Homo sapiens: one gene and its partners. The protein of the gene in region 1 purifies or fractionates together with the protein of each later gene. This does not show direct contact. Each region holds a gene or a part of one and is shown in the gene's direction. Other genes may lie near its edges.

What was found.
Region 2: the proteins of FOXJ3 (region 1) and SMARCA5 purify together in Homo sapiens (affinity purification with mass spectrometry; one large-scale study listed by BioGRID and IntAct). This does not show direct contact.
Region 3: the proteins of FOXJ3 (region 1) and ZBTB10 purify together in Homo sapiens (affinity purification with mass spectrometry; one large-scale study listed by BioGRID and IntAct). This does not show direct contact.

The regions. Positions count from the first base shown.
Region 1 is NC_000001.11:42,276,195-42,279,854, reverse strand, and holds part of FOXJ3 (forkhead box protein J3), read left to right. Parts: intron 1-1,070; exon of another isoform or gene 1,071-1,182; coding exon 1,183-1,507; intron 1,508-3,660.
Region 2 is NC_000004.12:143,523,680-143,527,339, forward strand, and holds part of SMARCA5 (SWI/SNF-related matrix-associated actin-dependent regulator of chromatin subfamily A member 5), read left to right. Parts: intron 1-687; coding exon 688-788; intron 789-1,771; coding exon 1,772-1,872; intron 1,873-2,601; coding exon 2,602-2,781; intron 2,782-3,660. UniProt on the Homo sapiens protein: ATPase that possesses intrinsic ATP-dependent nucleosome-remodeling activity.
Region 3 is NC_000008.11:80,524,196-80,526,895, forward strand, and holds the end of ZBTB10 (zinc finger and BTB domain-containing protein 10), read left to right. Parts: 3' UTR 1-2,070; downstream 2,071-2,700. UniProt on the Homo sapiens protein: May be involved in transcriptional regulation.

The DNA.
Region 1 (3,660 bases):
TTTCTTTTGACTTTTAAGTCAAAAGAAACCTTTAAGTTTTTTTTTATTTTGTTGTCCTTTTTTCCTTTATTTTGATATCACTTAGAAGTCTTTTCATTCTTCTCTACTTTATTGTCAGTCATTATTCCTGCTTCTTTGATCCCAGAATAGAAGGGCTTATGTCCTCTGCTGAAAGTTAACAATTCCAATGTGAAGTGTCAAGCCTTGTTTCTATATTCTTATCTTCAATTCTTAGAGCAGCTTTCTCCCTTTTCGAGGATATGTGTTAACCTGGCAGATTTAGTTTTCTTTCTTTGTGTGGTAATGGTCTGAATTTTTCAGCTTTGGAGAGAAATACACTACAGAATTCAAATCACTGGACGTTTGCCCAAACCTGTCTTTTAGTTTTTAATGCTTCTTTTCTTGCTGACCATTTATGTGATTTAATGCCTTAGATTCTGTACTCCCACAATTTCAGTTAGTTTTTGTAAACCTGTTCCTTGACTTGTTTTTTAAAAAAAGTAACTCCCTGGTACTGCCTAATTTAATTTTTCTCTCACTCATCAGTGTCCTTGACTTTGCATTCCTTTTTTCGGTCAACTCCCCCAGCTAGCTTGTCTCCTTGCTATTCTTGTATACCCTGCTTTACTCTTCCTACCGCCTACCTGCATAAACTCTACCTTCTTTCCTTCATGCAGATTCCTATGCCAGTTTCTCAGTTACTTCTCTGACCTCTTGCCTCCACCTTACTTTTTGGTAATTTGTTTTTATGACTCTCCTAAAATTTGTGTAAAAGAAATGCCAGAGGTACATTTTAAGCTTTTAACGGCTTGTGGTGGTGGTGAGTAAAAGAGTTGGGCTGCAGCTGGGTTTTTCTTACCAAGATCCTGTTGCCCTCTTAAAGAAACAGGCAGTGATTTTTAGAAAGATTGGCATCGGAACCACTTTGTTTGTCTATATTCTGTATTTTAAACAATTTTAAAACCAAGTTTGTTATGTTTTGGTGAGGAAAAAATTAAGAAAAAAGATTGGAATGTTGATCCCTTAAATATTTGGTTTGCTCATTAACATACTCAATCTTTTTCCTCCAGATGTAACTCAGGCTTTCCCTCACTTTGGAACTCCTAGATTTGTGAATATTGGATATTTTGAGAAGCAGGGGTTCTTTCCTTGATATTGACTAAGGAGTCTATTTACCTTCAGGATGACATCTGAACTGGAGAGCAGCCTAACGTCTATGGACTGGTTACCACAGCTCACCATGAGAGCAGCCATCCAAAAATCTGATGCTACACAAAATGCACATGGAACAGGAATTTCTAAGAAGAATGCACTCCTTGACCCAAATACAACTCTGGACCAGGAAGAAGTCCAACAGCACAAAGATGGGAAACCTCCATACAGTTATGCCAGCCTCATTACATTTGCAATTAATAGCTCACCCAAAAAGAAAATGACTTTAAGTGAAATTTATCAGTGGATTTGTGATAACTTCCCATATTATAGAGAGGCTGGCAGTGGTTGGAAGGTAAGGATTTTATTTAAATTATTACTTTTATGAAGTAAGCAATGATGTTGATTTCTACTGAAAATAAAGCTTTGTGAATGCTCATGTAATTGAATATGAAATTTTGATCTCTAGTGATTTTTAGGATGTCAAAAAGTTTTTAGCTTAGGTGAATAACTTTATTTTTGGTAGATTATTAGTGTGTTGAAGCTTGATTATGTTATAGGACTGATGTAGCATAAAGTAAGAGCGGGGATAATGTAGCGTTCACTGGAAACCATACCTGCAGTTCAGGTGAGTTGACAGTGAGCCTAAAGTGAAAAACAACGTAGTATTGCAACTAGTACTAACTGTCTTTATCAGTCAAGATTTTTTTTTTTTTTTTTTTTTTTGAGATGGAGTCTCGCTCTGACGCCTAGGCTGGAGTGCAGTGGCGCGATCTTGGCTCACTGCAAGCTTCGCCTTCTGGGTTCACGCCATTCTCCTGCCTCAGCCTCCTGAGTAGCTGGGACTATAGACGCCTGCCACCATGCCCAGCAGATTTTTTTTTTTTTTTTTTTTTTTTTTTTTTTGAGACGGAGTCTCGCTCTGTCGCCCAGGCTGGAGTGCAGTGGCGGGATCTCGGCTCACTGCAAGCTCCGCCTCCCGGGTTCACGCCATTCTCCCGCCTCAGCCTCCCAAGTAGCTGGGACTACAGGCGCCCGCCACTACGCCCGGCTAATTTTTTGTATTTTTAGTAGAGACGGGGTTTCACCGTTTTAGCCGGGATGGTCTCGATCTCCTGACCTCGTGATCCGCCCGCCTCGGCCTCCCAAAGTGCTGGGATTACAGGCGTGAGCCACCGCGCCCGGCCAGATTTTTTGTATTTTTAGTAGAGATGGGATTTCACCGTGTTAGCCAGGGTGGTCTCGATCTCCTGACCTTGTGATCCGCCCGCCTCGGCCTCCCAAAGTGCTGGGATTACAGGCGTGAGCCACCGTGCCTGGCCAAGATTTTTTTTTTTTTTAATTAGAGACAAGGTCTTGCTCTGTTACCCAAGGTCGAGTGCCTGAGCACGCCACCATGGCCAGCTAATTTTTAAATTTCCTGTAGAGATGGGGCCTTGCTCTGTTGCCCATGCTGGTCTCGAACTCCTGGCTTCAAGTGATCCTCCTGCTTCGGCCTGCCAAAGTTTTGGGGTTACAGGTGTGAGACACTGTGCCTGGCCAAGACTTTTAAAAAATATTTATCTTGAAAGAATTTTAGATTATTGCAAGAGTTGCAAAAGCAATACAGAAGGTTCCCATGTATATTTCATCAGCTTCTTCTAATGTTAACATCTTACATAACCATAGTACAATTATCAAAACTAAGAAATTGACTGAGCATGGTGGCTCACGCCTGTAATCTCAGCGCGTTGAGAGGTGAAGGCAAGAGGATTGCTTTAGGACAAGAGTTTGAGACCAGCCTGGGCAATATATGTTGCTCATGATTAGATGTTTTCTTGTAATTAGAATGAGGTAATACATTTTTGGGAAGAATAATACCGATATGGCCTTTTGTGCATAACATATCAGAGGATAGATAATATAAGTATGTCTTAATGGGAATGTTAACTGTGATTCTTCGGTTAAGGGGATGTCTGCCAGGTTTCTTCATTGTAAAGTTTACTATTTATCACTTTGTAAATAATAATATGTTTTGGGGGGATGCTTTGAGCATATGCAAATACAGTAAGTCCTCAACTTTGATAGGTTCTTGGAAACTGACTTTAAGCAAAACAACATAAAATGAGACCAATTTTTTTTCCTCATCAACATTATAACGAAATGATGTTATTTGAAGACGTGCTATACTTTTGTTTGACTTAGTGTTGCGGTTTCCAAGAACCCCATTAGTAGTGCTAAATGAAGACTTACTGTACTTTATTTCTTAAACTTTTATCCATTAATTTTAGCATTCATTGGTAGGTTATAACGGTAGCAATTATTACTCTCTCCCCTCTCTTCCCCTTTCCCCCGCCCCCTTTTTTTTAAGACAGAGTCTTGCTTTGTTGTCCAGGCTGGAGTGCAGGGGCACCATGTCGGCTCACTGTAACCTCCGTCTCCTGGGTTCAAGCAATTCTCCCGCCTCAGCCTCTCGAGTAGCTGGGATTACAGGCGCCCACCACTGTGCCTGGCTAATTTTTATATTTT
Region 2 (3,660 bases), on another chromosome or scaffold:
GTTTTGGTAGAAATGAAGTTACAAATTAGATTCAGCGGTCTCAACAGAGGCATAACGTGCCTTTTTCTAAATAAGATGAAAATATTTGTTGAAAGTGTCAGAATTGGGGAGTAAGTATTAATAGTTTTACTGAACCAAGCCCTTTAGAGATTAATTGGCAGTATTAAAACTTTAGAAAATCAGTTTTTAAGGGGGTAGTATATCTGATTCTCTTAGGATGTAGAATTTAGATGTGTATTTAAAAATTTTTTTGATGAATCCGTGGTCACTGCTTAAATTTCTGAGTCCTTATGCTGCAGCTTTTGCTCGAAGTTACAATTTTAAACATGTGGTTTCTGGAACTTTTTTTTCCTTGGCAAAAAGATTTTTAAAAAGGTACACTTTAAAATTCAAATAATGAGATTTTCTGACTACATAGTTCTTGAAATTTGACTATCATATTTGAGTTTATTGGGTTCTGGTTAATGTATCGTACTGGTGTATTTTAATAACTAATGTATATTTTAAATAATTATTTAAAACATTGCAGATTTAAATGTACTCATATTTTCTACTGTCCACTGGTTGATGCCTGTTAAAAATTTAATTTTGTGGAATCTTGGTCAGCCACTTGACTATGATGTTTAAACAGTAGCTGATAATTAAAGCCAAAACTCAAATCAGGTTATTTTATTTTCATCTTAACAGTTACCGACACCGTAGAACAGAGCAAGAGGAGGATGAAGAGCTATTAACAGAAAGCTCCAAAGCAACCAATGTTTGCACTCGATTTGAAGACTCTCCATCGTGTATGTTAAACACACTTGATTTTTTTAAAAAATTGCCCTTTGAGATCTCCTTTGGTTAATGTTTTGGATTTGTGTTGGCTACTATTTGTGAAGCAAATTTTTAGTAGTCTTAGATGTTTATTGGTTATGAAATAAACTTCAGATTTTGATGGAGATGAGAGCATATTACAGGATAGTAGTGCTGTATTTCAAAGTTATATAAAATGTCATTGTGTTTGTTATTGCCCTGAAGTATATGTAAATCTAAGGATCGTTTTGCTTTATATTTGTCCCACATAAGAAAACTAATTTATTTTAAAAAAGGTACTTCATGAACACATTTGCTTACTTCTGATGTTTTTATATTAATTTAATTTTTTGTGAAATGTATTTGTTTATTGGTTAGCTTTTTATCCTCAAGTGTTTTTCAAAAGGAGATGGAGGGCTACACTGTGTACATATTAAAAAAGAAAAATCAGGTGACCGTTATGTATATTTGGTAATTATTCTGGGGAGCAAAATAAGTAGTATACCCTGAAAGAGAGTGCATTGGAATGTATAAGATATATTGGACAAGTAACTTAGGAATTTCCTATTTCTTTTTTTTTTTTTTTTACTAGAAAGAAAATAAAATCCCCAGATAACCTGTATCTGGTCTTTATGAAAGCTGAAAATACTTGGTTAGGAACACTTGGTTTTTCATTAAAAAGACGAGAGGCCAAAGAGTCTCTCAGACCAGTATATGGGTAACGTAAGAACTGAGTTGTTGGAGTGGGTACTCTGATGCCCGCAGTCATGTTTCCCGCACTTGATTATCTTCCATGTCCAGCTTTTCCACTTCAGACCATGGCAGCTACCTCTAGTATTTTGGAACTTGCAGAGTTCCTATTCAAGAATCCGTTAGTAATGAAAATAAAGTCAGTAGATATGTGTAGGCTTAGATGAAGAGATTGCCTTGTATTTCTTGTCTTAAAATGCCTATTGTGCTTTTCTTTTGTTCTTAGATGTAAAATGGGGTAAACTGAGAGATTATCAGGTCCGAGGATTAAACTGGCTCATTTCTTTGTATGAGAATGGCATCAATGGTATCCTTGCAGATGAAATGGTATGTGTTGGTAGTTTTTTTTGAAGGGTATGTTTTGTATTGAAAATATCTTATACGTTGATAAAAGTTTCTTACAGTCTACAACTGTTAGCAAATGGATCCTCTCAGAAACTAGTATAAGCAGCTTGCCTTAGTTGCATAAGTGTGATCTGTATTTTAATTGTGAGAAATTTCCATCGCTGAAAATATGATAAATTTAAAAAGAATACATTTGAGAAACATGTTTTTGGATGACTTTTATAGTACAATGATTTATTTGCTTCCAGTTTTGTAAAACAAAAGTGAGGTCATTAATTGTTTATAATTGATAAATGTTTTTTCCAGGTGGTAGCTTGTACAATTCTTAGAAAACATTTATCTTTTGTTAACTACTAGTTATGTAATGAATGTTTAAAAAAGTTTCCTTATTGCTATAATGCTAAAACGTTTAATTGGTTGGAGAAAGTATGAAGTCAAAAGAAATGTGTTTCAATGCTAGCTCTGCTAGATGACTTTGGGAATGTCACTTAAACGGGGCCTTATGCGGGTGATAATAATACCTCCTTTAGAGACTTGTGAAAATTATATGACATAACACTTACAAACTTTGATATATGTTAAGTTTTTGCCATTTATTAACTGTTATAAATATGTAGCATTTCTTTTGAACATTTCTATATGTTGGGAGGTATAATTGTGAAATAATATTTTCATTTTTCACTGCTTCATGGTTATTTTGAAATCTTTCAGGGCCTAGGAAAGACTCTTCAAACAATTTCTCTTCTTGGGTACATGAAACATTATAGAAACATTCCTGGGCCTCATATGGTTTTGGTTCCTAAGTCTACATTACACAACTGGATGAGTGAATTCAAGAGATGGGTACCAACACTTAGATCTGTTTGTTTGATAGGAGATAAAGAACAAAGAGTAAGTTTCTAGTATTTCATTACATTTTTGAGGCTAAAATAATTTGAATTCAGGCTTGGGTATGGGTATAGCTGGAAGAAGGATAAATGAGACGGGATCTTCGCAAATATTAGTATTTACAAATGTAGCATTGTCTTGGTGGATAAAAAACAGCACTTTGGGAGGCCGAGGCGGGTGGATCATGAGGTCAGGAGATCGAGACCATCCTGGCTAACACAGTGAAACCCCGTTTCTACTAAAAACTCAAAAAATTAGCTGGGTGTGGTGGCACGCATGGCCTGTAGTCCCAGCTACTTGGTAGGCTGAGGCAGGAGAATCGCTGGAATCTGGGAGGTGGAGGTTGCAGTGAGCCGAGATGGCGCCACTGCACTCCAGCCTGGGCAACAAAGCAAGACCATCTTAAAAAAAAAAAATCATACTGGGAAGAAGACATTAGAAATGGTAGAAAGCTGTAAGACTGTAGTTTGTTTCTCTCCCTTTTGGGAGTGGTTGTATAAAATCATTGGTTGTGCTCTCATTAGAAGTTATTTTCTTGTTTTTAAAAGATATTTTGAAATGTGAGTTGGTTGGAAATTTAAGGAGCCACATTTTTAGATGAATGTGTGTAGTGGTAATAGTCACAGAATTAGAGTTTTTAAAGACGGGTTGAGTCATATATAGTAATTTGGTGATTTATTATGATATTTAACAAAATAAGTTAAAATTTCGATCAGTTGACAACATCCTTGTGGGAAGAAGAGATGGAAATAATGACATTAGTATATAAAGCTCAGATTTGGAAATTTATTCAGACTCTACTGAATAGCTGTGTACTTGTTTTTTATTTCCTCTTCATTTACCTGTGAGTGATAAGTCTATATTTTTCTCTCCCTTTCTAGT
Region 3 (2,700 bases), on another chromosome or scaffold:
GCTTACAAGTTTGAATTATGGAATACTATAAGGGTTTTTTGTTTATTTGTATGTTTTTATATGAAAGTACATAAATGACAGACTACCTCCAAGTAATCCTGCTTTAATTAATAGCAGTGATTTGTAATCAGTGTATCTTTTAAGATTCTCTACAGGTTTTAGAAAATATTAAAAATTCCCTGTAATTTACATTTGTGCATAATCTTGGAAATGGGTTGAAAAGCAAAGGTAAACTGCTTCATCCCATGTTGTATATTTGTGGACTGATTGACTACAAGTGATGTGATGTTATAAATTTGAAGTCTTTGAAACTTTATTAATGTAGAGAAAACATAACTAGCTTTTTAGGTTATTTCAAAGTTAGTAATAGAGCAAAGGAAATCAGAACTGGCCAGATATTCAGACTTGACTTAGAAAAACAGGAGTTTGTTGATTTTGTTTGGAGAAGGGCACAATAAAGGGGAGCCCACATAGCATTATAATGCCTAGTATCTTTAAACATGTAAAGAGCTATCATGAGGCAGAAGAATTAAGAAACTTTATATGTTTCTAAGGGGTCATGATTGGGACCATTGGCTCAAGATTGAAAATCGGTTTTTAATTATCCAAAGATGAAATGGGGCTGCTTCAGAAAAAGGTCTACCACTGGAGATAACGCTATGAAAAGTGAAAGAGATTACTTAATCATTTTGACAAAGGCAGTATTGACCAGACATTTCTATTTCAGAGTTGGATTTGTGCTTAGTTTTTTTTAGGTGTTGGGACCCTTGTAGTTGCTTTTTATTTTGCTTAGTCAACAAACACTAAAATGATAAAATTTGGTATGTATAAGTACTGGACGAAGGATGTTTTGACACTAAAAAGGACATAATTTAGGAAATTAAGAATTTAGACACCAAGTTTGGCTTAATAGAAAAAGTCACTATCTGAACTTCTTTCTTTTTCACCACAAATCACCGCAGACCAGTGTTTGGGAGCAGGTGTAGGAAATTGAATTATTGGATCTATGTTTAGGTAAGAAAACTAAAGGTACTTCAGAATTTAGGCTATGACATAACTGTCTTTCTGAAGTTTAAAGAAAGAAAGTGAACTATAGAAATCTATTCAGCTAATTAAAGTGAATGAAAAATATTACAGATTCCATAACTGCATGGCGCCTTACCTGCTATTAATACTGCCGCCTTACTGTCAGCCAGATGATTTTTTCCCACCACGGCCAGTCTTAAATTTGGCAATAAGAAAAAGCTAATCTTCCAAGTGTAAGTAGGTATGTGTTAGAATCTTGGTGAAAGATAAACACAAGACAGTCTTCTTGGCGCAGGTCCTAACAGTTGGTGAGATAATACATAAGATGGTTTCAGGATTATTGTAGAATTATTTAGGTTGAAAGAGACTGTAAGAGACTAATGAAGCATACCCAGAGAGGTTGCTACAGTGACTCCAGTCAGTTTTAGGACCCAGGACTCCTGAACTTCAATTTCAGTATTATTTTTCTGTACCAAACTCATTCAATAAATACTTGAGATTAGGGATAAGTTTGAAGTTAGAAGATTCCAGAGTACACTCAAATAGTATTTGGCACATAGCTTGTTGATCAAAAGTATTTACTAAGTGAGTGACAAAAGGCACTAGCAACTTTAAGGATTTTGCCTATTAGTATCATATGGCATGTAGCTATCAAGCCAGTTTCGTTTAGTTATTTTGTGTTGCCAAGCATATGATACGTGGTGTCACACTGAGCCTTTGGGATCCTTTCCCTGGATACATAACCCTAGTAGATAATGTTACTGCAAGATGTAATGACCAAATCCAACCTACTGCAAATGTTACTATGGAAATCTCAATGCAAAAGTAGCCTTTGTGATTTTTTTTTTAAACCGTCTCCATAACAGAACACTTAGAATTATTAGCCATTTGCTGCAAAGTATTTGTTTTAAAATGTCTGGCATATACACCACTAACATTTAAATGCCCAACATTCGGTCTATACGTGAAAAAACTAGAAGAAAAGCCCTGTTGGAGTTTTGATGTAGAGTGCAATAATACATCAATAAAGGTATTTTAAAATGACCTAATGTTTTAGTTGCCAACATGATTTTTGTATTTGTAAAGAGGTATGTTGGGTTTTGGCATTTATATTTTACCGTATGAAAGACATATTCATGTAAAAGGTAATGTGAAGCTTAGCATCTCTTGTCAACCTGTCCCCTGTTTCCAAGTAGTCTCCTTGGATATTTGTAGCATCTGGATTCCTAATAATCCAGATAATTAGGATTATGGCATTTATGTACAGACATGGGTAATTCTCCAAAGCAGATCTTCCCACACTAATTTTTCAAGTACTTGTCACCTAAATCATTAATAAAATGTGCCAATTCCAAATAATAGCAAATGTAGGAATTGAATCAGCATCCCAGAGTACTAGTCCTGGGCCATATCCTCATTAGGCAAAGGAAATTTGAAGAAGTTATTTTAGGACTTTACCTAAGGTGAAGTCTAGAATTTTACATATGTAGGTATGTTTTTGTTAGTCTTATATTTGCCTAAAAGTTATACGTTTTATTATTTCATAGGCGTAAATATGTTTTTATTAAAATCTTAGATTAGACTGAAGGCAGTGTTTTGGAGCCAGGAATCATTCTAAACTTTTATCCTGTATTTGCCTTTTAAAGGTAGCTGACTCTGACACCCCAGTCTGTG